Homo sapiens: one gene and its partners. The protein of the gene in region 4 purifies or fractionates together with the protein of the main gene of each other region. This does not show direct contact. Each region holds a gene or a part of one and is shown on either strand. Other genes may lie near its edges.

Region 1 (3,500 bases), on a different chromosome or scaffold from region 4:
TCAACAATTAAATAAATTGGTAAGATAAAATGGTTTTCCTATTACTGTATGAGACGGTCCCCAACTTAGGATGGTTAGACTTGTAATTTTTTGACCTTACAATGAGTTCAGTGGGATGTAACCCTAGTGCAAGATGAGGAAAATCTGAACTTACAGTGGTTCCAACTACAATTTTTCAGCTTTACAATGGGTCTTCCGGGGTATTAAATGCATTTTTGACTTATGATATTTTCGACTTTGGGACATGATCTCATCCTAAGTCAAGGAGTATCTGTATTTCATCAGCCAAACTGAATAATCCAATAAATGACTAATTTAACTCACATTATATTTGTCCTGTAACTTTTTCTGCAAGGCTAAATTATACAGCACTTTTAATTAACATTTCTTCCCAAGGCCATTAATTTTAGTACATAGATCCCCTCCATGGATAGTTTTCCCAAAACCTTCTCTCTAAGCAGCAGCTCTGGAGTGTCCAAGAGGCTCACTCATTCAAAAGGGTTAACTCCTAAATTATAGGTCACAATGAATTAGCCAGTGAACAAATATTTTACACATCATAATTTAGGTAATTAGATTCTTCATATTTTTAAAAAGGGAAATTACTAAAAGATATCCAGGACTTAAAATAATGGAAAATTTTACCACTTGTCTGATAGAGTCATTGGATTAAAAGAAATTTACACATTCAAAAAGGCAAACAATGACCCCCATGATTAAATACAAATCAAAACTCCAAATTACTAGAAGCAAATCAAATCAACATTCAGATATTCAAATGCAAGGGGAAGGAGAAAGCACATCATAAAAACATTATAGAGAATAAAATGTTAACATAAATGCTGTCTGCATGGATCCTTCTAAATTTACTAAAACCAAGTAAACCTGGACTTCATTCTTCAAAGAAAAAAACATTTAAAAAACCAAAAATGTTGATGTTCAATGTTATGCATTTATATACTCACCATCCAAATTGATCAATGGTTCTGCATTTTTAGTTGCATTGTCAGCAGTTTTTGAATTATCAGGTACTAAATCCTTGTATTTTTCAGCTATAAAAACAGGCAAAAATATAATTTGTACAACTGCAACTCAAGGTAAAATGACTACTGCTATTTACCAAATTTAACTGAGCCAAAATGATTACAGGTTGAGTTTCCCTTACTGGAAATGCCAATAATTTCCAATTTTAAATTTTTTCAGACTTCGGATTATCTGCATATATAAAATGGGATATTTTGGGGATGGGACTGAAGTCTAAACACAAAATTCATTTTTATGTTCAATGTACAACTTATACACATAGCCTGAAGGTAATTTCATATAATATTTTTAATAATTTTGTGCATGAAATAAAGTTTGTGTTAAGTGCTTATGTGTGGAAATTTCTACTTGTGTCCTCATGTCAGTGCTCAAAAAGTTTTGGATTTTGGAGCATTTAGGATTTCAGATTCTCGGATTAGGGATGCTTAACCTGTATAAGCATAAAACAATTCATTCAATCAAGCTTAATTTTTGCTATAGAAAATGTAAAAAGACAATGTAACTATCTTTTTGATTAAGCTAAAGCAATTACTGGACTATGTGACACAAATATCTTTTCATTAACATTTCTAAAGGCAATCATTTCAAACATGTAAATTTTAGGAAGGTAAAAATCTGCTTTTACAGCTTCCTCTGAAATCTGGGGTAGAAGAATGGGAGGAGGGTTAAGTATAGGTTACGTAAGATTAAATACAAACTCATTAAAAAGTACGCTTCCCCCCATCTTCTTTTGAATGCTGTACATAAAATCCAAAAACCTTGCTTTCCCCAAAAAAATCAATACATCAAATACACCATCATATACAAACCTCAAACTTATTTCATGGAAACTTGAAATTCAGAATTCCAAAGGTAGATTTTATTATTTTCATTTGAAAAACAATACTTCAAAGGAATTCAAAAATAAAAACACTTATTAATAATTCACTAAACTTAATGTTCAAAATGGCATCTTAGGCTATACAGTGCTTATGGGATCTGTTAATGAAACGAGGAAAAAATAAAAGCATAAAATTTAAGTCAGAGTTAAAAAGGCTTCCACTGGCCAAATCTGGAACAGTATCAACAGCAAAATACGTGATGACAGAAAGGATTATAATCCATTGAATAAAATAAAAATCCATGTATCTATACTGATTTAAACAAGTAAATTAGAGATGGGAAAACTTACAAGAGAAAGCCAACAAATAAATGTAGAAAAAATGATGAAATTAGAGAACACCTTTTGTCGATTAACATAATAAATGACTGAGGCAAGAATCATCATATGGTTGCTAAAACTAGTGGGGGAAACTTGAGGCGCAAAAACATAATTGATACAGTCTCAAAGTACCTCCCCACAAGATATATTTATTACAAAGAGGAAAATAGTAACTTTACAGTGGAGAAACCATAACCTAGTGATCAAAGTAACATAACTAGTAATGGGACATATCGCTATCACGTATCTCCTAATATGATGCACTAAAAAGAACACATCACTTCTGTGTTACTCCTAACAAAAGTATAAACCCCAAATCTAATCATGAGGAAACATCATATAAATCCAAATTGAGGGACACTCTACAAAATAAATGTCAGGGTCATGAAGCACAAATAAAGACAGGAACTGTTCCAGATTTTAAGATACTAAGACAGATGTAACAACTAATGCGGTGCATAATCCAGGATTGCTCTGGGTTATTTTTTTCTTTCGAGAGAAGTGGGGGGTTTGGTAAAATGTGAATAAATAATAGTATATCAAAGATAACTTCCTGATTTTGATCACTGTACTGTGGTTATATAAGACAAAGTTGTTTTTAGGAAATGCACTTTAAAGTGTTTAAGAGTAAAAAGGAATCATCTATAATTTACTATCAAATGGTTTGGAAAAAAATGGTGTGTGCCTCTGTGTAGAGAGAAGGATGAAGCAAATGAGGTAACACGCTACATTTGTAGACTTGAGGTATATGAAAATCTTTGTACTATTTTGTAATTTTTCTATACATCTGAAATTATACATTTAAAAAATTTCAGTTATTGATCATGTTGACAAGCTACCAAAAGGCTTCAAAAAATAGTAGAGCGCAAATAATAAAAACTCACAATGGTTTCAGCAAATTTTAAAATAAGTAACTTAAAAGTCAAGGAGGCAACATATCAATGTAAAACCACAAAAGAACATCAGCGCCTCCTACCGATTAGAGACAGTATTATTTGACCAATTTTCAAGTCTGTTTTTGCAATTCTGAATTTTAATAAACAAAACTTGTTTTCTAGCTTAGACTTTTAATATACTTTTGATACCATTCACCTTCAAGTATATGTTGACTTCCTTTTTCAATATTGAAAAATTTACATTCCACACACAAGCTTCTTTTATTCACTAAAAGAACATGCTATTACTGAGAAATACATGTACTTACTAAAGTCAACTGCAGGTATACATGACCATATGCATCTACCATTGAAGGTTA
Region 2 (3,500 bases), on a different chromosome or scaffold from region 4:
AATCCCTCAAATATAAAGAAGGTATTAGTCAAGAAAATGTTAAATATATCTGGCAAAACTGATAAACATGAACTCTATATTAGTCATTTGTTTCTTTTTTCCTTTGTAAATACTTCAACATACACAGTAATAGTGACATCTGCTGAGAAAGGCTGGAGTTGCTCCCATGACTGCTGCCACTCATGAGTCAGAGGCATGTTCAGGATTAACAAGTGAAGATAATTCATATTCCAGAGTCCCTTCCCCCCTTCAAAAGAGACACACACAAATTCCGAGTTGGGACTTGAACTTGGCCTACTGCTCCCACCCCAAAGCAGCATAACACTATAGCCTTAGGCAGTCTCTATGGGGAGACTGGACTATTATAAATGATATCCAGAGTTAAGCTATTAATAGGAACAGAAATGATTATTTTTAACTCCCACATTGATTACTATTCTTTTCATCTTGGGAATCAGAAAAGCATCTTAAAATAGAAAAGTTATTTTAAAACTTTTTAAAGTGTAAGCTGAATTCAGCTACTTAAGCAGTTTCAATACCCACAGAAAACTTAAGAACCATTTTAAAATTAGAATCCATCAGTGGAACTCTTGGGCTGGCTAAAATGCCTTAAAGAATAGCAGGGTATCCATACTCATATGCACTTCAGTTTGCTACACAACTTCTGCTCCTGTCATGAGGAATGTGGTACTTAAACCACACTGATACCTGAAATTACGAGCTAAAGGCTTTGGATTTTCATTAACAAAAATCAGCTCCGTCATTAAGGTCTATTTTTTCCTTCCCCAGGAAGACGGGAAAACATTTCTTAAATGTATGTGAAAACCTATACTAGTTTAGCATTAGGTTTTAAAAACAAGAGTTTCTTCTGTGACACTGGCAAATGTGTTATTCTTTAACCTCCACAATGGTCACAAAGACGCTCACTGTAAATGACCTTTTAAATTGTACATGTTTTGCATATTCTTTGACATGAACCATGTATTTCACAATTAAAAAACAAAAAATTGGCTCACGCTTATAATCCCAGCACTTTGGGAGGACGAGGCGGGCAGATCACGAGGTTAGGAGATTAAGACCATCCTGGCCAACATGGTGAAACCCCGTCTCTACTAAAATACAAAAATTAGCTGGGCGTGGTGGCCCCTGCCTGTAATCCCAGTTACTCGGGAGGCTGAGGCAGGAGAAATGCTTGAACCAGGGAGTTGGAGGTTGCAGTGAGCCGAGATCACGCCATTGCACTCCAGCCTGGTAACAGGGCAAGGCTGTGTCTCATAAAAAAAACTGAGGTAAAAATCAACTATGAAATTGGCCACACAAATTTATACTTCATTTTTAATGTACCTACCATTTCAATGAAATTACTCAGCTCCCCTAACTCCAAGTTACATTAGATATACAATACAATAATAATTCAGACCAAACATAAAAATGGAATACACCTCATTACTAATGTGGTTGTCTGGAAGGAAATAAAGGAAATATTTTAAGATATTAACAAAAAAGAAAAAGAAATATGAATTAAATAGCTTAGTTATTGATTAAAAAAAAACTCCTTAAACTTTAATGAGATCACCATTTTTTAAAGAATTTATCTTGGCCAAGCATGGTAGCTCACACCTATAATCCCAGCACTTTGGGAGGCTGCAGCAGGAGGATTGCTTGAGCCCAGGAGTTTGAGACCAGCCAAACCTCATCTCTAAAAAAAATTTTTTTTAATTAGGCAGTCACAGTGGCATGTGCCTGTGGGTAGTCCCAGCTACTGGGGAGGCGGAGGCAGGAGAACTGCTTGGGCTTAGGAGTTGGAGGTTACAGTGAGCCATTATGGCACCACTGCACTCTAGCCTGGGTGACAGAACAAGACCTTACCTCAAAACAAAACAAAACAAAACAAAAAAAACAAAAGAAAAAATCAAAAGTATTTATTTTGTTATAGCTCCAAGAGTTCCCAATAAAGAACACCTTACACGCTTAGCTTTTAGTCTTCAGGATCTCTCCTAGGCATCAACTGTAGGAGAACTGATAAAGAGAACCCATTTTAAAAAAATGAAATGCAGAATGTTACCAGCATATAAGCTGGAATTCTCCAAGTTGCGAACACGACCCAAACTGAAGGCCACAAAACAGGGTAAAGTAATGGGGCCAGGGAGGGGAGGAGTGTGTGTGTGCATTAATCACATCACTATGATAATATGTATGTATTTCAAAATTTTAAAAACATATACATTGTGAAATCTGCTGTTACCACCAGAAGTCACTAGTCGAAGAGAATTAAGGTTTCAAAAGGTGAGAACACATGGACACACAGGGGAACAATACACACTGGGGTCCGTCAGAGGCTGGAGGGTGAGAGATGGGAGAGGATCAGGAAAAGTGGGTACAAACCCTCCATGACACAAGTTTACCTATGTAACAAGCCTGCACATGTACCCCTGAACTTGAAAGTTTAAAAATAAAATAAAATAAACTTCAAAAGCGATGCCTTTAAATATAATACCTAACCACAACTGAGCTTTATTGTGTTTGAGCCCCCAGGAGCCACAGCTTAGGGAGCTATAAAATTAGCAAACAGAAGAGTACGGACACTCCTTATTTCAAAACAGCAACATGTGCAGCATTTTTCTAAAGATAACAGAAGAAACTCATTACTACAGTAAAGCATTCCAGGATTGGTGCACACTTTAAATCTATCAGTCAAAAGAGAAAAAAAGGGACAATTGTACATTTCCTTTTTCTTCATACTTGTCAATAAAATTTCACTGTCCGATTTCCAAGAAAGATAAAAAAGTATTAGTCATTTGAAATAGGTTATTAATATACTGAACTATGCTTCTAAGATGTCGTTTCTCATAGTAATAATATTACTGCTAGTAAGAAGTGAAATGTATGTTCAAGATGTACAGCGCAGCTTGGCTGTTTGACTTACCAGGATATTGTCTGGCTTGATATCTGCATGTAGGATATTGCATCTTTTAAGGAGTTTCAATGCCAGGAACAACTGCTGACTATAGGATCTTACAGCTTTAATATGAAGACCAACATCTTTACCATATTTTTTTAACACCTCTCGTAAGTTCATGCTTTTAGGAGAAAATTAAAAAAAGAAAACAAAATAGGAGTTAAAATGCAAAATGGAAATATAAAAAGGCAAAAACATTTGCAAGCATAAAGTAAAATCAAGCGCAAAATAAAAATATGTAAGAACCACCCCCACATTTGATAAATCATTTTATATTGAAAGGAGAGCATATCAAATTGTATGTATATAACACAGTTTCTGAATAAATTCAAATTTTCTAAATAGGTAAGAAGAAAGATATGCAAGGTAAAACTCCCATTTCGATTTTAGAATAGATTCACATCTGAAAACACAACAAAGCCACACTGTTGAAGATAAAAATTCCTTCCTTGAAGTATTTCATTTTAAGAGAGACTCTCTGTTGAACCCGGGAGGTGGAGGTTGCAGCGAGCCAAGACTGCACCACTGTACTCCGGGAGGA
Region 3 (3,500 bases), on a different chromosome or scaffold from region 4:
CCACATCCAAACATTTTTTTTCCCTTTCTCTTTTGTCTTGGGCTCAAACTTAAATTCATGTTTAATCTATGAAAGCAAAACAATCTTCAAAACAGGCCATAAAGCCGGGCGCGGTGGCTCACGCCTGTAATCCCAGCACTTTGGGAGGCCAAGGTGGGCGGATAACCTGAGGTCAGGAGTTCGAGACTAGCTTGGCCAACATGGTGAAACCCCATCTCTACTAAAAATACAAAAATTAGCCAGGCTTGGTGGCACATGCCTAAAATCCTAGCTATTGGGAGGCTGAGCCAGGAGAATCGTTTGAACTTGGGAGGCGGAGGTTGCAGTGAGCCAAGATCACACCACTGCACTCCAGCCTGGGTGACAGAGTAAGACTCTGTCACCAAAAAAAAAAAAAAAAAAAAAAAAAAAAAAAAATATATATATATATATATATATATATATATATATATATATTTATATGTATATATGTGTGTATATATATATACACTATATATATATAATTTAAGTAAAACAAAAAAGACTAAATGGATGTAAGAAATTCATATTTTAGAGCTTGTCTTGTACTACTGGTAGGGGGCACAGTTATAGCTATTAGGAAATAATGATTTCGGTTTCCAACTGAAATCATAGTCAAGGTGAAAGAGACAGTAGGCACTTTTATTTGAAACCTTTTAGCTATTAAGGACATAAGAGGTTATTTCAAAATGAGGGCCATGAATAAGGGAGTAAGAAAAAGAAGTAGAATAATCTTGATCAGATCACAATTTTCTGAGACTTTTCTAGTTTCAATGAAAATTTAAATTACAATGGAGATCTTAAAAATTAGCCTCTTATCGAGTATCTTTTATTTAAACTATGGTAGGCACAAGATTATAGGTTTTATCTCAAAGATACTACTGGTTATATGGATTTTTTTTTTTTTTTTTTGAGACACAGTCTTGCTCTGTCACCCAGGGTGGAGTGCAGTGGCACAACCTTGGCTCACTGCAATCTCCGCCTCCCAGGTTCAAGCAATTCTCCTGCCTCAACCTCCTGAGTAGCTAAGATTACAGGCGCGTATCACCACACAGGCTAATTTTTTTATTTTTAGTAGAGACAAGGTCTCACCATGTTGGACAGGCTGGTCTTGAACTCCTGGCCTCAAGTGATCTGCATGCCCTGGCCTCCCAAACTGCCGGGATTACAGGCGTGAGCCACCATGCCTGGCCTGGTTATATGAGTTTCAAAGAATGGTACAGAATCACAATCCTGAGTTCACTTTATAATGTCTATTTTGCCCTGTCCAAACTTCTATATATAGGAGACCTATGCCTTACCTTCACTCTCTGAGCTGGAAAGTCTTCGCTTGTGTACTCGCCTTATTTCTTTACCACGTCGCAAACTCTTCTGGGAACCGTCACTTTCTGAGTCTTCTTTGTAGTTAATTTGTCTTTTCTGATTTCTCCTTGACCGCCTTCGCCGAGTTTCTACAAAATCATCACTAAAATCATCACTGAAGTCACTTTCTATTTTAAAAAAAGGAAGAACAAAGTACAAAATTTAAGTCTATTTAGAAATGTAGCTTAGGTTATAAAAATGAAAAGCTACCAAGCAGAGTTCAGTCATAAATATTTTTAAGTGAACAGTAACTTTTATGAGTCTCATTTTATTTGAGAGAGTATCTCACTATCACACAGGCTGGAGTGCAGTGGCATGAACATGACTCACTACAGCCTCAACCTCCTGGGCTCAAGAGATCCTTTGGCCTCAGCTGCCCCAGTAGCTAAAGCTAGGATCACAGGCATATGCACTACCACTCCTGGCTACCTACCAAAGTGTTGAGATTACCACATGCCTGGCCTTTAAGTCTCCCTTAAAAAAAAAAAAAATGACTCAATCTGTGCAGGTTTTTAATGCCAAACCTCACAATATATACTCTTAGCGGTGAATCCTCAAGATTAGAAAATGTTTTATCCTTTTTAGTTTGTTTGTTTTTGAGACAGAGTCTCACTATGTCGCCCAGGCTGGAGTGCAGTGGCATGATCTTGGCTCACTGCAAACTCCACTTCCCGGGTTCAAGCAATTCCCCTGCCTCAGCCTTCCGAGTAGCTGGGACTACAGGTACCCGCCACCACATCTGGCTAATTTTTGTATTTTTAGTAGAGATGGGGTTTCGCCATGTTGGCCAGGCTGGTCTTGAATTCCTGGCCTCAAGTGATCCGCCTGCCTCGGCCTCCCAAAGTGCTGGGATTACAGGTGTGAGCCACCACACCCAGCCTAAATGTTTTATACTTTTTTAGAAATAGTCCTTACTGCAGTCGACCTACAGCTACCTGGTCAGGTACACAGCTGCCATGACTGCTCTTCTTGGTAGACGGCTACCACAAATCCGCCTCCTGATAATATGCTGTTCTACCTGTCACTATAGTCATAATGTATTGCAGAGGTTATGCCCTCTAACCAAAGAAAACTCATGAATCTGTTCCACATAAATACAGAACTCAAGATATATTTTTGACTCTTCTCCATAAAGAATACAAATCTGCTAAATAAAGCACACAGACCTAGTTAAACTTGCAAAGCACTGCTAAATAGCATTGTTCCTGTCATCTCTGATCAATAAGCCAGAGTGAGGCTGTGGCATTATGTCACAGCTGTTTTTCAGAATGTTAAATTCCACCGAAGTACGACATTCAAGCTTGTTATTCTTTTGTGGATTTCAAACATTTCAAAATAGCTAGCCAATAGGTTGAAGTGGTTCTCATTGGCCAAATTTGGGACAAATGGAGCCTAAATAGTGATGGGAATGTAGTATATCCACTGATCAGAATAAGAATCCACGAGTTTACACTGTCATAAATAAACAAACATATGGAGGAGAAGGGAAATGTTCTTCCTTACAGAACAACAATAAATAAATATAACAGAAATGACAGAGTTAGAATTATCCACAGGAACTAAAACTAGCAGGTGAAATATAAGGAAAAGGATATTTAAATAGTCTCAAATTCCCACAAATTACTTATTAATTATAAGGAAAAATAATAAAGAGACTCAGAAGATGCAACATTCTCTGTGCTATTCCCACTATAAATGCATAATCTGAATCTTATCACAAGGAAACAAAAGAAATCAAAACTGGGAAACATCTACAAAACAACTAGTATGTACTCTTTAAAAATATCAAGATGAGACAAAATTTGAGGATTATTCCAGATTAATGGAGACTAAAGAGATGTGAATAAACGCATAGCCCTGGAATGGATCCTGGGTTAGGAAAAGAAAAAAAAGATATAAAGAATAATATGGAGATACTTGTTAAAAATTTGAATGTGTACTGTTAATTAGGTAATAGCATTATATCAATGTTAAAATATCTGAATTTGGTAATTGCATTGTGGTGATGTAAGAAAATGTCCTTGTCCTTAGGAAATAATCACTGATAAAGGGGCATGATATTATCATCACTTATTTAGATGGTTTAGGAAAAAAGATAAATAAAACCAAAAAAAACCCAC
Region 4 (3,500 bases):
CACTGTGTTACCATTAACAGAAAGGTTAAAATTCCAATGATGTCAAATTTTCCTACGTCAAATGGACCCAACCACAGGAATCAAAGATATTTTTCTTTTTTGTATTCTTATTCCCTCACACTGAAGTTTCTATTAGGTATTACACTATTATCTGATTATAAAATAGTTTACACTGTAACCATCAAAGATTTGGGGAAAAAAGCACTAAAATAACTAAAGCAGAATACCCTGTTCCTACCACTGTGTACAAACTTATCTGCTAGGCCAGCATTTAAAATTTTACAAACTATCCAGCAAGAATGCTAATAGAAAAGTGACAAACCTGAAAATATGGCTTCTTTCAAATATAGTAACATGTGGGAGAACTTCCTGATATCATTCACCAACTCCTTGATGTAATCCGGATCAAAAATAGAGTTGGAACTTAAGGACTTGAGCCCCATTTCAGAAGTTGTAATATCAGTAGAGAGTTGACCTGATGCCCAAGCACGTTTTTTCTTTGTCTTTTTCTGTTTGTGAGCAATCATCCTTTCATGTAACAGTCAGAAAAACTGAAATCCTTAAGGGGGCAAGAAACAAAACAAAAACAAGCGAGGAGAGAGAAAGAAACACAAAAACTAAATCAGCCAGGGAAATATTACACTAGATTTTCACAAACAGCCCACAGCTCACCTTGGTATCCTATTTTTAAATTTTTAAAAATCAAAAATCAATAATCAATCACTGTATTATTGATAATAGCAGTTTCCATTTATTAAATACCAGTAATTCCGACAACTCTGACATGCAAACTACTGTTCTTTACATTTCACAAATGAGGAACCTGAGGTTTAGAGGTTAAAAATTTGCCTTAAGCTCTCAACTGATAATGAACTAGGACTTAAACCTGTATCTGCCTTGATGCCAAAATCCATGCTCTTAATAACTTCCTCTTGATTCCTAGGGTATAGAATTTTATTTAATTGTAAAAGTTGTTCTGAAACATCACTTAGTAGAAGGTCATATTCTCCTTCCATGACATCACCTTCAAAAATAAAGATGAGATATGGGCTTTGAAAAAAGAAATACCTGTTCTTAAAATCCTCCTCTGTCACTTATTGTATGATCTATTCATCTCTTTACTTCAGTATGCTCATTTATAAAATGGGAGTAACATCCTGACAACACCTATCTCATGAGATTGTAGGGATTACATGACGCGATGATACAGAAGTGTCGAGAACATAGAAGTTCAATTACAGTTAGTTTTTCCTAATAATGCATATACATACATATACACAGACACACACACACAACACATCCTGGATTACCAAGTCTCATCAAGGATATTTCTTTGTTGAAAATAAGTTACAAGGGTGCCCACTAATCTGACATACTCTGACTGGTTAAATAAACACGTGTGATCATCAGAGCAATATTTTTGATAATCTCAGGATGGTAGTAAAAAGGTAATCTTTTGGTATGAGAAGAATTTAGATTTGAATCCTGGCTCTAGTATTTTCTAGATATGTGACCAGTACAATTTATTTACAGGCTTGTGTGAGGATGAAAAGGGATCACAAAATTAGAAGACTTCATATGTTAAAACACCTAATACTGGCACATAGCTGGAACTCAAGAAAATCATAGTTATTTTCTTCTTCACCCTCATTTTACCTTTCCAGAGTTAAAAGTTCTAATCTTGTTTGTATCTCTGGAAATCAAAAAGGAAATAACCGGAGGAATTAAATTAACTCACACTTTATTATTAACACTTTTTTTCAAGTATTTTGTCTTGAATATTTGGCTACTTTAAAAATGGTAGATGACTAAGGACTTCTATAAAATTTACAGTAGAAAGTTTTTTGGTTTTTTTTTTTTTTGGAGGGGGGAAGGGTTGAGTCTGGGTCTCACGCTATCACCCAGGTTGGAGTGCAGTGGTGTGATTATAGCTCACTGCAGCCTCAAACTCCTGGGCTCGGGCCATCTGCCCGCCAAAGCCACCCATGTAGCTGGGACTCCAGGGGCACAACACCACACCTAGCTAGCTAAAAAAAAAATTTTTTTTTTGTAGAGATACAGTTTCACTATGTTGCCCAGGTTGGTCTCAAACTCCTGGGCTCAAGTGATCCTCCTACCTCAGCCTAGCTAAATGCTGGGATTACAAGCATGAGCCACCATGCCTGGCCCACTAGGAAGTTTTATGTAATATCCGTTTCTAGTCATATGTAAGATACATTATTGTATCATTTACTCCTTCCTATATCTCACCCAACTCCATAGTTCATTTTTCTTTCTGATCTACAGGGTTCTCTAATCAACCCACTTCTCTCTACTGCTACCACACTAGTGAATTACCATCATTTCTTTTCTGAGCTACTATACTACTTTCCTAATGATCTATCTGCATCCATTCTTGTCTCATCACAAATGTAGTGAGTGAACATTTCAAACATAAATCTCATAATGTCATTTCTCTACTGAAAACCCTTCCAAAGTATAAGTGAGAAGCTATCATGCTCTACAAGGCTCAACATGAGATCTGGCTCCTACCTACCTGTGCAATGTCATATGGAGACACACCTGCTGGCTCTCAACACTCCTGCCACACACACCTCCTTCTCATTCTTCCAACAGTATTTGTTTACGATGACTCTCACCAGGAAATAATTTTACATAATAATACATGTTAAGTGTATTATGTTTGTGTGTGGCATGCTTCTGGGTAAGGCTCCATGGGATGTATGTGAGTTTTTAAAAATTCCATCCCATTTCATTTTTAAAAATGCTGGGTGCAACTCACCAACTTGGTTTCATACACATAATAGGTCATGACCCTACAGTTTGAAAAACACCAACTGTTCAGCTCAGGGTCCTGTCTATATGTAATTCTATTTGCCTGGAATATTCCTTCTCCTTTGTTTACTCACTCTGATCTCAGCTCAAAGCTTACCTCCTCAAAGAAACGTTCCTGGACCATCCCCATCCCCCAGCAAAACCACTACCATCAAACCAGAGTAGAATCTCCTGTGAGATGTTCCATAGTATCCTCTACTTTTCATCACTGCTCATACCACAGTTCAAATAGATCATGTCTTCCTAGCTAGAGTATAATCTCATGGAAATCAAGACCATGTATGTCTATTTGCTAACCATGTGTTCTCTGATCATAGCACAATGCTTGGCGTATGAGGAATGAACTACTTAGAACTATCTGCAGATAGGCTTATAAACTTATAAAGTTTCAATTAATTTTTATAGAAACAAAAATAACTCTGGGTTGTTGCAATGTTTTGAAGTGAAAATATAAATTTTTAAAAAACTCTCTAAAATGGTATGTTTCAAAAAGAAAAGTATATGAAGCTGAGGGAAGATTACATAAAACTGAAATCAAAGTTGGATTTCTATTATTGCTCCTCCTGATTATTAAACTGGGGACCACACTTTATAATTTTTAAAGTTTGTTTATTCACTGTCCTTTTGTCAATCTCAAATTATTTCTGAGAATCTAACTTCTACAT

Evidence for each region. The genes of interacting proteins can lie anywhere in the genome.
Region 1: the proteins of ARHGAP29 (region 4) and RTRAF purify together in Homo sapiens (affinity purification with mass spectrometry, with the first as the bait; one large-scale study listed by BioGRID). This does not show direct contact.
Region 2: the proteins of ARHGAP29 (region 4) and PRP4K purify together in Homo sapiens (affinity purification with mass spectrometry; one large-scale study listed by BioGRID and IntAct). This does not show direct contact.
Region 3: the proteins of ARHGAP29 (region 4) and RSF1 fractionate together in Homo sapiens (co-fractionation; one large-scale study listed by BioGRID). This does not show direct contact.

The regions. Positions count from the first base shown.
Region 1 is NC_000014.9:51,996,046-51,999,545, reverse strand, and holds part of RTRAF (RNA transcription, translation and transport factor protein), read right to left. Parts: intron 1,053-3,500; coding exon 966-1,052; intron 1-965. UniProt on the Homo sapiens protein: RNA-binding protein involved in modulation of mRNA transcription by Polymerase II. Component of the tRNA-splicing ligase complex and is required for tRNA ligation.
Region 2 is NC_000006.12:4,052,300-4,055,799, reverse strand, and holds part of PRP4K (serine/threonine-protein kinase PRP4 homolog), read right to left. Parts: intron 3,081-3,500; coding exon 2,927-3,080; intron 248-2,926; coding exon of another isoform or gene 224-247; exon of another isoform or gene 1-223. UniProt on the Homo sapiens protein: Serine/threonine kinase involved in spliceosomal assembly as well as mitosis and signaling regulation. Connects chromatin mediated regulation of transcription and pre-mRNA splicing.
Region 3 is NC_000011.10:77,670,723-77,674,222, forward strand, and holds part of RSF1 (remodeling and spacing factor 1), read right to left. Parts: intron 1,509-3,500; coding exon 1,320-1,508; intron 1-1,319. UniProt on the Homo sapiens protein: Regulatory subunit of the ATP-dependent RSF-1 and RSF-5 ISWI chromatin-remodeling complexes, which form ordered nucleosome arrays on chromatin and facilitate access to DNA during DNA-templated processes such as DNA replication, transcription, and repair.
Region 4 is NC_000001.11:94,231,085-94,234,584, forward strand, and holds part of ARHGAP29 (rho GTPase-activating protein 29), read right to left. Parts: intron 560-3,500; 5' UTR 528-559; coding exon 323-527; intron 1-322. UniProt on the Homo sapiens protein: GTPase activator for the Rho-type GTPases by converting them to an inactive GDP-bound state. Has strong activity toward RHOA, and weaker activity toward RAC1 and CDC42. May act as a specific effector of RAP2A to regulate Rho.